2 separate regions of the Homo sapiens genome follow, and region 2 is linked to region 1. Evidence: fine-mapped expression QTL. Tissue or cell type: whole blood. Region 1 holds a variant in brackets; the other region holds the start of a gene. All regions are shown on one strand. Distances are from middle to middle.

The links. PIP is the estimated chance that this variant, and not a neighbour inherited with it, causes the effect.
Region 2: CRCP starts here. The variant in region 1 is fine-mapped to the expression of CRCP in whole blood (INTERVAL, PIP above 0.99).

Annotation. Positions count from the first base shown.
Region 1 is chr7:66,244,873-66,252,977 of GRCh38, forward strand. All of the region lies in intron 2 of TPST1 (tyrosylprotein sulfotransferase 1), which reads left to right. Among named protein-coding and RNA genes, the nearest start is that of TPST1, 44 kb to the left of the region's middle. The variant T/G (reference allele first, on the strand shown) is at 3,807.
Region 2 is chr7:66,110,902-66,119,006 of GRCh38, forward strand. CRCP (CGRP receptor component) reads left to right here and starts at 3,946. Exons shown (of 6, transcript NM_014478.5): 1 at 3,946-4,069. The coding sequence starts at 4,062. RefSeq lists silencers at 2,822-3,012, 4,441-4,735 and enhancers at 3,659-3,788, 4,326-4,854.

The sequences.
Region 1 (8,105 bases):
TATAGCAACTATTAAACACAAATAAATTAGAATGAAAAAGATAATAGTAGTGATAAGTACAAGAGAACAAATAAGAACATGAAAACTGACACCCTACAGCTTCTAATAAGTAAAGCAGACAAAAAATCCTCTAAATCAGATCAAAAGCAAAGAAAGACTGAATAAATGAGTGAAAATAATGTAAAAAGGTTTTTGGAAATGGAGACATTTTTGAGGAAGTAGGAAGAATAATTAGTAATTTATTAAATTCATAACTTTCTTTTTAATATAGAAAGTGAAATTTAGTTTTGTTAAAGAAAAAATTATTCAGTGATACCTGCTAAGGCATGAGGCAGTGTTTATTTAGCACCACTGCAGGAGGTACAGGGACCACTGCAGTCGGGTCTTGCAGTGGGGAATAGAGATTGGACTTAACTCTGAATACAGCATGGGCAAGTGAGAATTTGTAGCCAGAGAGTAAGGTGAGGGTCAGTGGATGGAAAATTACTACGAGGAAACATCAGGGGTCAGGGGCATTCTGGCTAAATTTACCTGATAGGATTCTCACTGAAGACAGGCCGGGGTGATCAGACATCACCTGGAGGGTGGTGGAGGATGAGAAACCCGATCAGATCCTGAGAGTGATTAGATATCAAGGGTAGGAGGTTCTTGCTAAACTGCCTTAGCAGGGTTCTTTGCTAAAACTGGATTTTATAAAGAAGTGCACAGATGGTCCTAGGAGAAGGTTCAGGAGCCTGACTGAAGTTTGGTCACACAAAGAATCTTTGTCAGTTTGGAAACTTAAAATTCTTATGTCTTATGGGATTAACAGAAAGATAACTCAATAGCCACTTGAAATTCTTCTGAAATTTAAGGATAACAAGAATATTTTGAGCAAGTGAAGAGAATGACAGACCATATTCACAAAGATATGAGCATTAATAGCATGGAAAATTAACAGCAGGCAAATTAGGATCACCTGAGCTCTACTAGCTCAGTCTGAAATATCCCAGAAGAATTTTATAAATATTACATGTGGTGTTTTGTTTTTGTTTTTGTTTTCATGAAGCTATCAGAGAACAAGTCTGTTTATTTGTGAAAACTTCTCCTTTGTGAAGGCACTGCCTAAGGATGCTATTGGGCTATTGGGGTTGTGTCTTTTTTGGTTTTTTTTTTGGAGACAGGGTCTTGCTCCATCACCCAGGCTGGAGTATAGTGGCAAGATTGTAGCTCACTGCAGCCTTGAACTCCTGGGTTCAAATGATCTTCCCACCTTAGCTTCCTGTTAGTAGCTGGGATTACAGGTGCATGCCATCATGCCTGGCTAATTTTTTTTTTTTTTTTTTTTTTTTTTTTTGGTGGAGACAGGGTCTCACTATGTGTTACCCAGGCTGGATTCGAACTCCTGGCCTCAAGCAGTCTTCCTGCCATGGCCTCCCAAAGTGCTGGGATTACCGCTGTGAGCTGCCATGCCCAGCCTCCTTTTACAAGCTATATTGAAGAGAGAAGTGACTGAGACATCTTAGCTGGAGAGGAGGAATTGAATAAACAAGGGATACAAGTGACAGAGTAAAATGGGCTGTGAAAGGAAATCAGAGAGCTGATGAAACATTGCATTTCAAAGTGTGTCAGGGAAAGATTGAGAAGAAGCAGAACCAGAACATGAATTAATAAGGCAACATTTGTACTTTTCTTGGAGAATATAGCAATTGGTAGCAAAAATTAGAAGTTGGATATCAGATCATTTATTAGTTTGATTAGATTTCTCTACAAATAGTAGAGATCCAAAATAACAAAGATTTCCAAATAATGACTACTATGTAGAAGGCAGACCAGGGCTGCTTTGTCAGCTTTGCAGTCATCTGGCATTTAGGCTGCTTCCAGCTTTTGTCTCCATCATCCCCAGGATCCAAGTTGGAGCGCCAGTCATTTCATCTACATTCTAAGCAGCACAGCAGGGGTGGATGTGTGTAAAACAAATGGCGTTTAGTATTTTTTGAGGATATTTCTTAGAAGCTTCCAGGTAGTACTTCTTGCTTTTCACTGGCCATAACTGGGGTTCCTTTTACTAAGAAAAATCAATTGGATATTGGGATAGGCAGATAGTAGTCTCTGCTACATTATTGAGCACCTACTATGTGCCAGACACTGTGTTAGCTCCTTGAGATAAAAGGTCTTTGCCTTAAAGGAACATATGATCTAATAGAAGACTTAGATTCATATATAATGCAGGGTTAAGAACTATGGTCACCACTGCTTCTTCATTGGTGAATAATTAAAAACAAACAAAAAGAGGCCAGGCACAGTGGCTCACACCTGTAATCCCAGCACTTTGGGAGGCTGGGGTGGGCAGATCACCTGAGGGCAGTAGTTCAAGACCAGCCTGACCAACATGGTGAAACCCCATCTCTACTAAAAATACAAAAATTAGCCAGGGGTGGTGGCCCATGCCTGTAAACCCAGCTACTCGGGAGGCTGAGGCAGGAGAATCACTTGAACCTGGGAGGTGGAGGTTCCAGTGAGCTGAGGTCGTGCCACTGCACTCCAGCCTGGGTGACAGAGCAAAACTCTGAACAACAACAACAACAACAAAGAACTATGGAAAACCAAGGAGAGGTGCCTAACCCAGTCTGAGGTGTTCAGAGAGGTCATCTTGGGCAATGTGTCATGAAACTGAGCCCTAAAGAAGGGTTTCCTCAAGCTTGGTATGACATTTTAGTCAGATAATTATTTGTTGTGGCAGCCATCCAAGATGATCAACAGATAAAGGGAAGCGCATTTAGTTTTGACTTAGGGAATATTGTGCTCCCTGGGTGACCCATGGTTAAGGCGCTGTAGTTCTTCCTTGACTGTCCAGAATGTCTTTCCTTTTCCTTAGCCAATGAGCCACCCAAGAAATGTTACTCCTGGGAGAAGCCTGTGCCTAACTGTGGTTTACAGAATTCAAAGGGAAGAGGTAGTATGGAGGACTCCTTGTGGCTTCACTCCTGGCCCAACCCAGGGCCTCAAAAGGACCTAAGGAACAACTACGCCCTGTTATGCCTGACCTATGGACCCTACCCTCTTGACCATATAATGGAAGTCAGCTAAGCTTAGTCCCACCTGGACCTAGAACATGGTGTTTGTTTCCCATAGGTGAATATATTTTTGAAAAATATATTTTTGAAAAATAAGTAAAACAAAACCAAATCAGGAAATAATCATTGAGAAGTTACAATATGAACACCTTAACAAAGATGAGTAACAATGTGGTGTTTTTTGCTAGAGAGTTCATTTCCAGGCAGGAAGTAGTGTGAAACAAGGTTTGAGAGAAATGATGCGGACCAGGCTTTGGAGGGCCTTATATTTTAAGCTAAAGATATTGAATTTTAAGCCAGTTGCCTTCAGACTTCTCTTATTAGTGGAGCACCCTTTTTTTCAAGTGAAATCTTGTTCGGAACCTTGGTAGATGATGTACTTGGAAGTGAAGTGGCCCTCCTTTAGGCAGCATTTAATTTTGGTTGGATTTAACAAAGAAAACTGAAGTGAAGCTCATGGAATTGCAAAACTACAATTTTGTTTTTAAAAGAAAAACATTGATTGTAATGTGTAAAATTTACAAAACTGATACACTTTTAATTGGGATTATATTGGTTTATAAAAACATTTAGTGTTTTTTTTTTTTTTTTTTGAGACAGAGTCTCGCACTGTCTTCTGGGCTGGAGTGCAATGGCATGATCTCGGCTCACTGCAACCTCTGCCTCACGAGTTCAAGTGACTCTTCTGCCTCAGCTTCCTGAGTAGCTGGGATTGCAGGTGCGTGCCACCACACCCAGCTAATTTTTTTT[T/G]TGTGTGTGTGTTTTTAATAGAGATGGGGTTTCACCATGTTAGCCAGGATGGCCTTGATCTCCTGACCTCATGATCCGCCTGCCTCGGCCTCCCAAAGTGCTGGGATTATAGGCGTGAGCCACCGTGCCTGGCTCAAAACATTTAGTTTTAATAGGCATTTTAGGGTATGTCTTAGTCCATTTGGGCTGCTATAACAAAATACCACAAACTGGGTTCTTACAAACACAGAAGTTGATTTCTCGCAGTTTTGGAGGCTGGGATGTCCAAGATCAGGCACTGATGGATTCAGCATCTAGTAAGGGCCTGCTGTCTGGTTCATAGATGGCACCTTGTGTCCTCACATGGTAAAGGAGGTGAAGAATCTCTCCCTGGCCTCTTTTGTAAGTGCACTAATAAGGACACTTCCCAAGTTCCCATCTCCTAATACAGTCACATTGGTGATTAGGTTTTAACATGAATTTGGGGGGACACAAACATTCAGTCCATAATGAGGTATAAAACTTAGAAGATTCCTGTTTTTTTTAAAAAAATTCTTTTTTTTTTTTAAGATTTAAAATGTAAGCCTAGTTCAGAGTATTTTGCCAAGATGAAGTGTAGGGCAAATTGGATCTTTAAGTAGAGTAACCTATTACATTGATTAACTACTGTCAAAGAAAAGCCAAGCACATCAAGGGAATTATGGTTGGTACCCATCCAGATATTATACATGAATTCATGGTTCCTCCTTGGTCCTTTTCTGAATTACCTGTCTAATGAAGAATTATTTCATTGTTTTTGAAAACATCCTTACATTTCCTCATTGCTGAAAATCATGTTTTCAAACATCAACCATTCATCACAATCACATACAGAACCTTTAAAAGACCTAAAATTTCTGATTCAGGAGGTCTGGGATAGGCCCAAGAACTTGCGCTTCTAACAGGTTTCCCGGTGATGCTAATGTTCCTGGCCTGATTTCACTTTGAGAACCACTGCTTAAAATCATGCTACGTTTTGTTTGCTTCATTTGTGGACTCAGACTTTCTTGCCCCTACAGCCTGGGCTGCAGCCACACTGAAATAATTGTAGCTACAATTATTGCCACACCATTTATTTAATCAGTTCCTTTGAATGTGTTGTTTCCTGTGCCTGCAACACCTTTCTCTCACTTCATTTCTTCATCTGACCAACTCATGGTTGTATTTCAAGATTTAGTTCAGGTTTCCTTTCCCTAAGGAAGATCTCTCCAAGGCCCCCCTCTGTCTGGGATGTACTTCCTATGCTTTCATGAGACACTTGGCAAATGGAAAAGGGTTGATACTTTGAAGCTGGCTAGACTTTGTTTAAAGTCTTTCATTGACACTAACTGGTTTTGTAACATTGCATCAAATACTATCTCTCTCCGTGTCTCCATTTTCTTATCTATAAAACAGGGAAGATGGTGATGATGGTAATGATACCATCCAACATCTACTGAACATTTGTTATGTGCCAGGCAGTATGCTGAGCTCTCTGTGTGCCTTATCTCATTTAGTTTTTATATTTACCCTTTCACACTCACCCATAGGTGCCTTAAACATCTTAATTTTATAGATGAGGGACTTGAGGCTCCCAGAAGTTGAGGAGCTTGTCCTCCGTCCCACAGTTGGAAGATGGTAGAGCCAGGCTGTGGACTCAGGTCTTTGTCTTCATCTATACTTTTAGCTCTTGTTGTATATACTTACAGCATTTATGAAGACAAACTAAAACAGTGTGACAGTGGCTAAGCACACGTTTTAGAGTCAGACAGACATAGGTTCAAATCCTAGCACTGTCCTTTATTGATTATGTGACCTTGAGTGAGTTATTTGGTTTTGTCTAGTCTTGGTTATCTCATCTTTCCTTTAGTTTTCTTATCCTGGAAATGGGAATGATAATATGTTAGATCCCCCTTATCTGCAGATGATATGTTCCAAGACCCCAGTGGATGCCCGAAACCCCACTGATGGTACCGAGCCCTATATATACTATGTTTTTTCCTGTGCATATATACCTGTGGTTAATTTATAAATCAAGCACAGTAAGATTAACAGCAGTAACTAATTATAAAGTAGAACAATTATAACAATATGCCAGTATTACTACTTTTGAGCTTTATGGCCATGATTAAGTTAAACAAGAGTTACTTCAACGTAAGCACTGCGATACTGCTACAGTCCATCTGATAACAGAGGGCTACTAAGTGACTAATGGTGGGTAGTGAGTGTACATTGCATGGACGTGTTGAACAAAGGGATGATTTACATCCCAGTCTAGACAGAGTGAGACAATGTTAGATTTCATCATGCTACTGAGAATGACATGCAATTTAAAACTTATGAGTTGTTTATTTCTGGAGTTTCCCATTTAATGTTTTCAGACCACAGTTGACTGCAGAGAACTACCTGAAACTGTGGATAAAGGCTTACTGAAATAGTATCCATTAAGGATGATAATAATAACTATCCATAGGGTTGTCGTGAGGATTTAGTTAGAATGACTATAAAGCCCTTAGCCAAGTGCCTGGTATATAATGAGAGGTTGAAAATGTTACCTGTTGTCTTTATTATTATAATAATAAGGATGATAATAATACCGATTGCAGATGATGGTAAGTAGTATTTATAGAGTTGTGAGAATTAAATTACTACAAAGCCTTTAGAATAGCACCTGGCACATAGAAATTGTTCAAAGTGGTACTTATTAGTATGTTATTTTTATTGTCGAACGCTTATGCACTGTTCCCCTCCCTCTCCCCATCCCAAAATAATGAGTGTGAAACACCTAGGTTAGTAGCAAGTGCACCACAGGCTTTTGTTAATGTTCTTACACATGCTCCTGTAAGCTTGTTTAGGGCAAAGGTAGTCTTGAAGTCATGAAATGTTTGTCTCAATGAAGCAAAGTAAGCACCCGATTTGAATAGCTCTAGTAGGAAACTAACATGGCAGGTTGGGAATGCTGGCATTACAGTAACAATAATCTCTGAAACTACTTGGAGGTGACCTTTGATATTTCATTGTCATGTTTTCCCTTTTTCCTTTGTTTCTTTGTTTAGTTTGCCTGTTGGTAAACTTTATATAAATGGGATCATGGTCTGTGTTTTTTTCGGTCAGGTTCTTTTTTTTTTTCTCTGGCCTAACATTTTCTTTTGAGATTTACCTGTGTTGTGGTATATAGCTATATCATCAGTTTTAATTGCCAAAATACTATTCTCTGGTATAATATAGATTATTTATACATTTTTACTATTGATGAACATTTGGATTGTTTTTAGTTTGGAGCTAAGGACATTTTTGAAGGTGTTTCCTTCAAGAGTTTCTCTAAGATATACACTTTGGATTAGAATAGCTGGATTATGAGCAGTATGCATATTCCACTTGTTTTTCTTTTTTGTTTTTTGAGATGGAGTCTCGCTCTGTCGCCCAGGCTAGAGTGCAGTGGTGCGATCTCGGCTCACTGCAAGCTCCGCCTCCCGGGTTCACGCCATTCTCCTGCCTCAGCCTCCCAAGTAGCTGGGACTACAGGCGCCTGCCACCACACCCGGCTATTTTTTTGTATTTTTTAGTAGAGACAGGGTTTCACTGTGTTAATCAGGATGGTCTCGATCTCCTGACCTCGTGATCTACCCGCCTCGGCCTCCCAAAGTGCTGGGATTACAGGCTTGAGCCACCGCGCCCAGCCTTTTTTTTTTTTTTTTGAGACGGAGTCTCGCTCTGTCGCCCAGGCTGGAGTGCAGTGGCGCGATCTCTGCCCACTGCAAGCTCACACCATTCTCCTGCCTCAGTCTCCCAAGTAGCAGGGACTGCAGGCGCCCACCACCATGCCCGGCTAATTTTTTGTATTTTTAGTAGAGACGGGGTGTTAGCCAGGATGATCTCGATCTCCTGACCTTGTGATCCGCCCACCTCGGCCTCCCAAAGTGCTGGGATTACAGGCGTGAGCCACCGTGCCCGGCCAGTAGCTTATCTTTTAACTTCCTTTTTAATATCTTTTTTGTCAATGACCTCACTTTAACAGAATTAAGAAAAATAAGAAAAATCTTTTGATGAATTTAAGTTTTAAACTTGTATTTACCAATCTTTTTCTTTAGAATTTTTTGTAAAAAAATTCTTCCATACTCTGAGGTCATAAAAATAGTTTCCCATGTTTTTTCCAAAACTTAAAACAAATTTCTTTTCATGTTAATCTGGAATTTATTAATCAATATGGAATTTATTTTCTTGTGTGAGGTGCAGATTCATTTTCATATTTTTTCTATAAAGATGACCAGTTTCCCGGAACCATCTATGGAAATACAGTCA
Region 2 (8,105 bases), 130 kb before region 1:
CACTGAAGCCCATACCCAATCCCTCGGCCTCGTGTGCTTTTCCCTCACCCACTTCAAAGGCCCGTGGCTTTGGGACGCCTCTCCACCTCATTAGTCATTCCCTCCCCTGCCCATCGCGTCGAAACACAATGCATTGTGGTTATTTATGTCCAGAGCTGGTTCCTCAACTAGGCTGTCAGCTAGCCAGTGCAGAGGGTGTGTGTTAGTCACATTTGTATCATCAGCCCCCGATGGGCCATGGCTACATACTTGTTGAGTGAATAACACAAGGGGCATCTTTAGCATTTCTTTGTGGGGCCCAATCTCCTCAGCGAAGGTACAGGGAATTCTCCACACTAACTAGGCCAGCTGGGTCTGGGTGGCATTTTATGACTTTTTTGTTGTCGTTATTTTGCGATGGAGTCTTGCTCTGTCACCCAGGCTGGAGTGCAGTGGCGTGATCTGCAACCTCCGCCTCCCAGATTCAGACGATGCTCCTGCCTCAGCCTCCTGAGTAGCTACGATTACAGGCACGAGCCATCAAGCTGGTTAATTTCTATTTTTTTGGTAAAGATGAGGTTTCACCATGTTGCCCATGCTGGTCTCAAACTGGGCTCAAGCGATCCACCTGCCTTCATCTTCCAAAGTGCTGGGATTACAGGTGTGGACCACCACACTCAGCAGAGTAAAAAATGTTTAACAGCTTTATTAATATAGGATTAATATGCTGTACAATATGCCATTTAAAGTATACAACTCAGTGTCTTCAGTATATTCACAGGGTTGTGCAACCACCACCACCATCTATAATAATTTTAGACAATTTCTGTTTCCCAAAGAGAAACTCCCTACTTATTAGCAATCACTTCCCATCCTTGCCCCCAACCTAGCCTTCTGTCTGTATCCATAGATTGGCCTCTTCTTGGACATTCTATATAAAGTGAATCATACCATATGTATTCTTTTTTTTTTTTTTCTAGAAGGAGTCTCATTCTGTCACCCAGGCTGGAGTGCAGTGGCGTGATCTCGGCTCACTGCAACCTCCGCCTCCTGGGTTCAAGCAATTTTCCTGCCTCAGTCTCCCGAGTAGCTGGGATTACAGGTGCCCCCCACCACACCCAGCTACTTTTTGTATTTTTAGTAGAGACGGGGTTTCACCATGTTGGCTAGGCTGGTCTCGAACTACTGACCTCATGATCTGCCTGCCTCAGTCTCCTAAAGTGCTGGGATTACAGGCGTGAGCCACCACGCCTGGCGATTTTTGTATTTTCGGTAGAGACAGGGTTTCCCCATGTTAGCCAGGCTGGTCTTGAACTCCTGATCTCAGATGATCCACCCACCTCAGCCACCCAAAGTGCTGGGATTACAGGCGTGAGCCACCTGGCCAGGCAATATATATTATTTTGTGTCTGGCTTCTTTCACTTATTAATAGCATCATGTTTTGGGAGGTTATCCATCTTGCAGCATTTATCTATCAGTCTGTCTATATATATTTTTTGCAACAAGGTCTCTCACTCTGTAGGCTGGAGTGCAGTGGTGTGATCATAGTTCCCTGCAGCCTCTACCTTCTGGCTCAAGCGATTCTCCTACCTCAGCCTCCCCAGTAGCTGGGACTAGAGGTGCTCACCACCACACCTGGCTAACTTTTCGTAGTTAGGGGGTCTAGCTATGTTGCCCAGGCTGCTCTGGAACTCCTTGTCTCAAGAAATCCTCCTGCCTCTGCTCCCCAAAGTGCTGAGATCAAGCCTGGCCTCCTTTTTATTTTTATATTTTTGAGACAGAGTCTTGCCCTGTCTTCCAGGCTGGAGTGCAGTGGCACGATCTTGGCTCACTGCAAGCTCTGCCTTCTGGGTTCACGCCATTCTCCTGCCTCAGCCTCCCTAGTAGCTGGGACTACAGGCGCCCACCACCACGCCCGGCTAATTTTTTTTGTATTTTTAGTAGAGACGGGGTTTCACCCTGTTAGCCAGGATGGTCTCGATCTCCTGACATCGTGATCTGCCCGCCTCGGCCTCCCAAAGTGCTGGGATTACAGGCGTGAGCCACCGTGCCCGGCCAGCCTCCTTTTTAAGTAGTTTTCCATTGCACAAATGTAGCACATTTTATTCATCCACTCATCAGTCTCTAGTTAATGCATCTGTTGTATATGTTCAGATTGGCTGGGGTTCAATACCCACTGGACAACTTCCTAGATGAGTGACTTTTGGTAAATCATAATCTCTCCAAGTCTGCCTCAGTTTCTTCAATTATAAAATGTCAATAATAATGCAATGTACCTCATAGAGAGTCATGGTTGTATTGCCACAGTAATTAATAAAGTGCCAGGAACTTTATAAGGATTATTTAACACCCTTATTATTTACAAAGTAGGCAACAGAGGCTATTGTGGTGGTTCACACCTGTAATCCCAGCACTTTGGGAGTTGGAGGTGGGAGGATCACTTGAGGCGAGGAGTTCAAGACCAGCCTGGGCAACACAGTGAGACCCCCATCTCTACAAAAAAATTAAAAAATTTTGTAGCTGACTCTTTGGACAATAAAGAATTTTATTTTAGAAAATTAGCCAGGTGGCTGGGTGCAGTGGCTCACGCCTGTAATCCCAACACTTTGGGAGGCTGATGAGGGTGGATCACAAGGTCAGGAGTTCAAGACCAGCTTGGCCAAGATGGTGAAACCCCGTCTCTACTAAAAAAATACAAAAATTAGCTGGGCATTATGGCGGGCACCTGTAATCCTAGCTACTGGGGAGGCTGAGGCAGGGAACTGCTTGAATCCAGGAGGCAGAGGTTGCAATGAGCCGAGATCACGACACTGCACTCCAGCCTGGGCAACAGAGTGAGACTGATCTCAAAAAAAAAAAAAAAGAAAAAGAAAAAGAAAAAAAGAAAATTAGCCAGGTGTAGCGGAGCGCACCTGTGGTCCCAGCTACTCTGGCAGGCTGGGGTGGGAGGATTGCTTGAGCCCAGGAGTTCAAGGCTGCAGTGAGCTCTGATTGCACCACTGCATTCCAGCCTGGGCGACAGAGCAAGACCCTGTCTCTTAAAAAATAAATAAATAAACTGCAATGTTTCTGGCAGCCCAGATGCCACCAGCCTCACTACTCTCTGAGAGGTGGGATTTTAACATGCAAAGGCCCACTAACCCGATCACGTCTCACAACTTCAGCTGATTAATACTTTGTTAAAACCTAGACCACGAAAACAGACAGAGCCCGGCGAGGTGGCTCACGCCTGTAATCCCAACACTTTGGGAGGCCGAAGCGGGTGGATCACGAGGTCAGGAGTTCAAGACTAGCCTGGCCAAGATGATGAAACCCCGTCTCTACTAAAAAATACACAAATTAGCTAGGCGTTATGGCGGGCGCCTGTAATCCCAGCTACTCGGGAGGCTGAGGCAGGGAATTGCTTGAACCTGGGAGGCAGAGATTGCAGTGAGCCGAGATCGTGCCACTGCACTCCAGCCTGGGTGACAGAGCGAGACTCTGTCTCAAAAAAGAAAAAAAGAGGCTGGGCACGGTGCCTCACGCCTGTAATCCCAGGACTTTGGGAGGCCGAGGCGGGCGGATCACGAGGTCAGGAGATTGAAACCATCCTGGCTAACACGGTGAAACCCCGTCTCTACTAAAAACACAAAAAATTAGCCGGGCTTGGTGGCAAGCGCCTGTAGTCCCAGCTACTTGGGAGGCTGAGGCAGAAGGAGAATCGCTTGAACCCAGGAGGCGGAGGTTGCAGTAAGCCGAGATCCAGCCTGGGCGACAGAGCGAGACTCCGTCTCAAAAAAAAAAAAAGGTTAAAGAAAAAAAGAAAAGAAAACACAAGATAATCCTGTCCGCAAACGCTTAGCAGTCTTAAATCGGCCTGGTGGAAGGATGCAGGGACACTCCCCCACCCTGCCCCCCGAAAAAGGGGAACGCGCAGCGCGAGGTTCCGGGTCCGCCAAGCTCCCGGCATGCAGCGCGGCGATCCCGGCGAGCACCTTGGCGCGCGGAGCTGGCACCTTGGCGCTGTTGGTGGCGGCGGAGACAGCTGTGAAGTGTGAGGTTCTTTGTCTGCTGGCAGCTAGGGGCGACGAGGCGGGACGTCATGGAAGTGTAAGTCTTCTCGGGCGCGTCCCTTTTCGCCCGAGGAGCCCAACGGTTTGACCGCTGAGAGCTGAGAGCCGAGAGCCGTGGGGACTGGGCGACCCTCGTACGGGAGTGAGGGCAGCGGGCCGGCCCTGTCCGGGAGGGCCGCGGGGTGGTGACGGGGACGAACGGGACTCTCGCTTTGCCCTTCCGAACCTTCGCTTCCCCTCCACGCCGTGTCTGGTGCGGGGCCGAGCACTTCCGTGTCCGGCTGCCTTTCAATGTGCCCCCTCCTTCTCTCATTCGTTTACCAGCGTTTCTGGGTCACAGTGCGGGGGTGGAGCCCAGTCTGGTATCCGACCCCGGACTTAGAAGGCTATAAAGGCCTGAGTCTGTCCGCCCTGAAAGTAGGTGGAGGAGAGACGAATCAGGGCCGGGTAGAGCTCTGCTTGCAGCTGTAGGCCCCTGGAGAGCCCTCGGAAGAGCTGCCCTCGGAATTTGATGGGAGCAGTAAACACTGTGAGGGAAGGGGCTGGTTTTGGGGTGGAGAAGGGAAGGACGTGAACCAGGACTGGGACCAGAGAAACAGCAGGGGGTGTGTGGGTGTGTGTGCAAGGCGAGGGTAAAAGATTTTCTGACAGTTTAACTCCACGTGGTCTTTTCCATGCTTGCTCGTTGCGCCTGGTGCAAATGGAAGATTTTGCATCTACTCTGAATGTGGGCTTTATACGGTTGATATTAATTTGTAGGTATTACTATCTTGTGTTCTCTTTGAACTGATTATTTGATACAGTTTCCTTTATGTTCTTTTGCCTCATGTTTAATGGTTATATGTACTATGGCATTTCACATTTTTACATTTTTAATTAATTGTTTTTTCTTAAGAAACAGGGTCTTGCTCTGTCCCCCAGGCGGGGTGTAATCATGGTTCACTGCAGCCTCACTTTCTGGACTCAAGCAATCCTGCTTCAGCCTCTTCAGTAGCTGGGACTACAGGCCCACGCCATCACTCACCGCTAATTTTTTAAAAAAAGTTTTGTAGATGCAGGGTCTCACTACAGCCCAGGCTGGTCTCCAGCTCCTGAGCTCAAGTGATCCTCCTGCTTTGTACTCCCAAAGTCCTGGGATTGCAGGCGTGAGCCACTTCACCTGGCCTCTTCCGATTTTTTTTTAAACACAATATGTCTGTGTAACTGAAATGAAAGGCTCATGAAACAATAATGTGTGGCGTACACTCTCATATTGTCTATTTTTTATTAATATGAATGGGGCCAACCGTGGTGGCTCACACCAGCAATCCCAGCACTTTGGGAAGCTTAGGCAGAAGGATCACTTGAACCTGGGAGGTGGAGACCAGCCTGGGCAACATAGGGAGACCCTGTCTCTGCAAAAAATTAAGAAGTTAGCTGGGTGTGGTGGTTCATGCCTGTAGTCTCAGCTACTTACGAGGCTGAGATGGGAGGATCACTTGATCCCAGGAGGCTGCAATGAGCTGAGATAGAGCCACTACACTCCTGCCAGAGTGACAGTGTAAGGCTCTGTCTTAAAAAAAAAAAAAAAAAAAAATTGAACCACTGAATTAATTTTGCAACCCACTGATGGGATTTCATCTGCAACCTAAAAAACTATTCATATAATTTACTCTAGTCCAAGCCATCATTACTAATTTTTCCCTCTTTACTAGAGCATTTCCTGTGAGCATACAACCCTGCTTTAGAGAATTCATCTTAGAAAATCCTCCGTCCCCACATACATGTCCCCCTCTTACTCCATTTCTGCTTCCCATCCCAACAAAACTTCTTGAAAGTGCTGATTAGCCCCTCATTCTCTCAGCCATTCTGTTGGGCTTTCATCCTCACTGGTCTACGGGAATGACTGTTAAGATTACCTGAACCAGCGGGGCGTGGTGGCTCATGCCTATAATCGCAGCACTTTAGGAGGCCGAAGTGGGCGAATCCCCTGAGGTCAGGAGTTTGAGACCAGCCTGGCCAACATGGCATAACCTCCTCTCTACTAAAAATACAAAAATTAACTGGGTGTAGTGGTGGGCGCCTGTAATCCCAGTAACTCAGGAGGCTGAGGCAGGAGAATCGCTTGAACTCGGGAGGCAGGGGTTGCAGTGAACCAAATTGTGCCACTGCACTCCAGCCTAGGTGACAGGGCAAGACTGTCTCAAAAAAAAAAAAAAAAAAAACCTGATCCCTCCATCTTGTCAAATTCAGAGGTTGATTTTCTGGCCTCAACTTTCTTGATCTCTCAGCAGTGGTTAATACAGAAACTCTAGAAACTTTCCTTTTCTTGTGATGTATGTTCCTTTGCGTATTTCCTCCTACATCAAGGACTACTTCAGTGTCCTTCCCTGGGTCCCGTTCCTCTCTTGCTTGATGTCTAAGTGTTGAGTGGTATCTTAGGGCTCAGTCCTGGGACCCTTTCTCTCCACACTCTGTCATTTCACCCATCTATGTGCTGATGGTTCTCAAAGGTATGTTTCTAACCTTCTTCTCATCATCTATCCAATTGCATAGACCAAAAATCTAGCCCTCTCTCTTCACTCCCTAAATCCAGTCCATCAGTGGTCCTGTTGTTTCCACCCTAGAATATATTTTGAATGCAGTTACTTTTCACCATCTCCAATGTTAGCTTTGTAGTCCATCACCTCTGGGCTGGATTAAGCAATAGCCTTTGAGTGTTCACTCTTCCCCAGCCTCCATTCTGTTCTCCACATGGCAACTGGAGTGATCTTAAGTAATGATTGGAACATGTCGCTCCTGGGTAAAACCCTTCATTGACTTTCCATTGTACTTAGAGAAAATCTCCATCTCTTACCAGGACCTGCAAGACCCTGTAAAACCTCACCTACTCCCCAGCCTTACCACTTGCCACTCTCCCAACCTCCCAGACACACACTTTCCACTGACAGGTATTTCCTTCTCCTCTAACCTTCTAAGCACTTCCTGAGGACCATTGCGTTGTGGTACCCTCTGTCTGGTATACTTTCCTCCTCGCCCTCGTCCTGTTCTCTTCTTTTTATTGTTCTTTTTTTAGTTCGCTTTTGAGATGGAGTCTTGCTCTGTCACCCAGGCTGTAGTACAGTGGCGCAATGTCAGCTCACTGCAACCTGTGCCTCCAGGGTTCAAGATTCTCCTGCCTCAGCCTACCAAGTAGCTGGGATTACAGGCGTGTGCCACCACGCCCAGCTAATTTATGTATTTTTAGTAGAGACGGGGTTTCCATGTTGGCCAGACTGGTCTTGAATTCCTGACCTCAGGTGATTTGCCTGCCTCAGCCTCCCAAAGTGCTGGGATTACAGGCGTGAGCCACCACACCTGGCCACCTGTTCTTGAAGGTTGTGTCCCTTTTCAAAGTTGCCTTTCGTCTTCAGTAAGTCTAACTAACATAAGTTCTTTTTGTCTTTCATAGTACCTTGATTTACTTTCCCTCAAATAATTACAAGTTGCAATAATAAATGTATGTTTACTTGTTTGGAGGGTGGGGACCAGTGTCTGTTCACCTAGTGCTTAGCATTGCATCTGGCACACAGTAGGCATTCAGCAAATACTTGTTCAATAAAGTAATATAACAATACTTTATTAGCTTCATAAATATAGTCATCTCTCAGCGTCTTTGGGGGATTGGTTCTGGGACCCCCTGCGTATACCAAAATTCACAGATGCTCAAGTCCCTGATATAAAACGGTGTAGTATTTGCATATAATCTATGCACATTCTCCCATATACTTTAAATCATCTCTAGATGACTTATTATGATACCATGACATGTAATACCGGTTTTTGTCCATGGTTCCTGGCTCATAACTACCATAGCCTTTATTACTTCCTAAATGACTAAAACAGTAAGCATAACTTTTGTTAAAGTATTTGTCCTTTGTCCAAGGTTCCTGAAGCGGCCTTGGGACAGCTTCAGAGCAGTAAAGGTGAAAGACAGTCTTTTGTTAGAATGTTGGGGCACTCTAAGCCTCAGAAGCAGGCCTCAGAAAACAGAAGCTCTGTCTGTCTCTTGCCCTCTAATCATCCCCTGCCTTTCTGTCTTAGAGCTGGTTGTA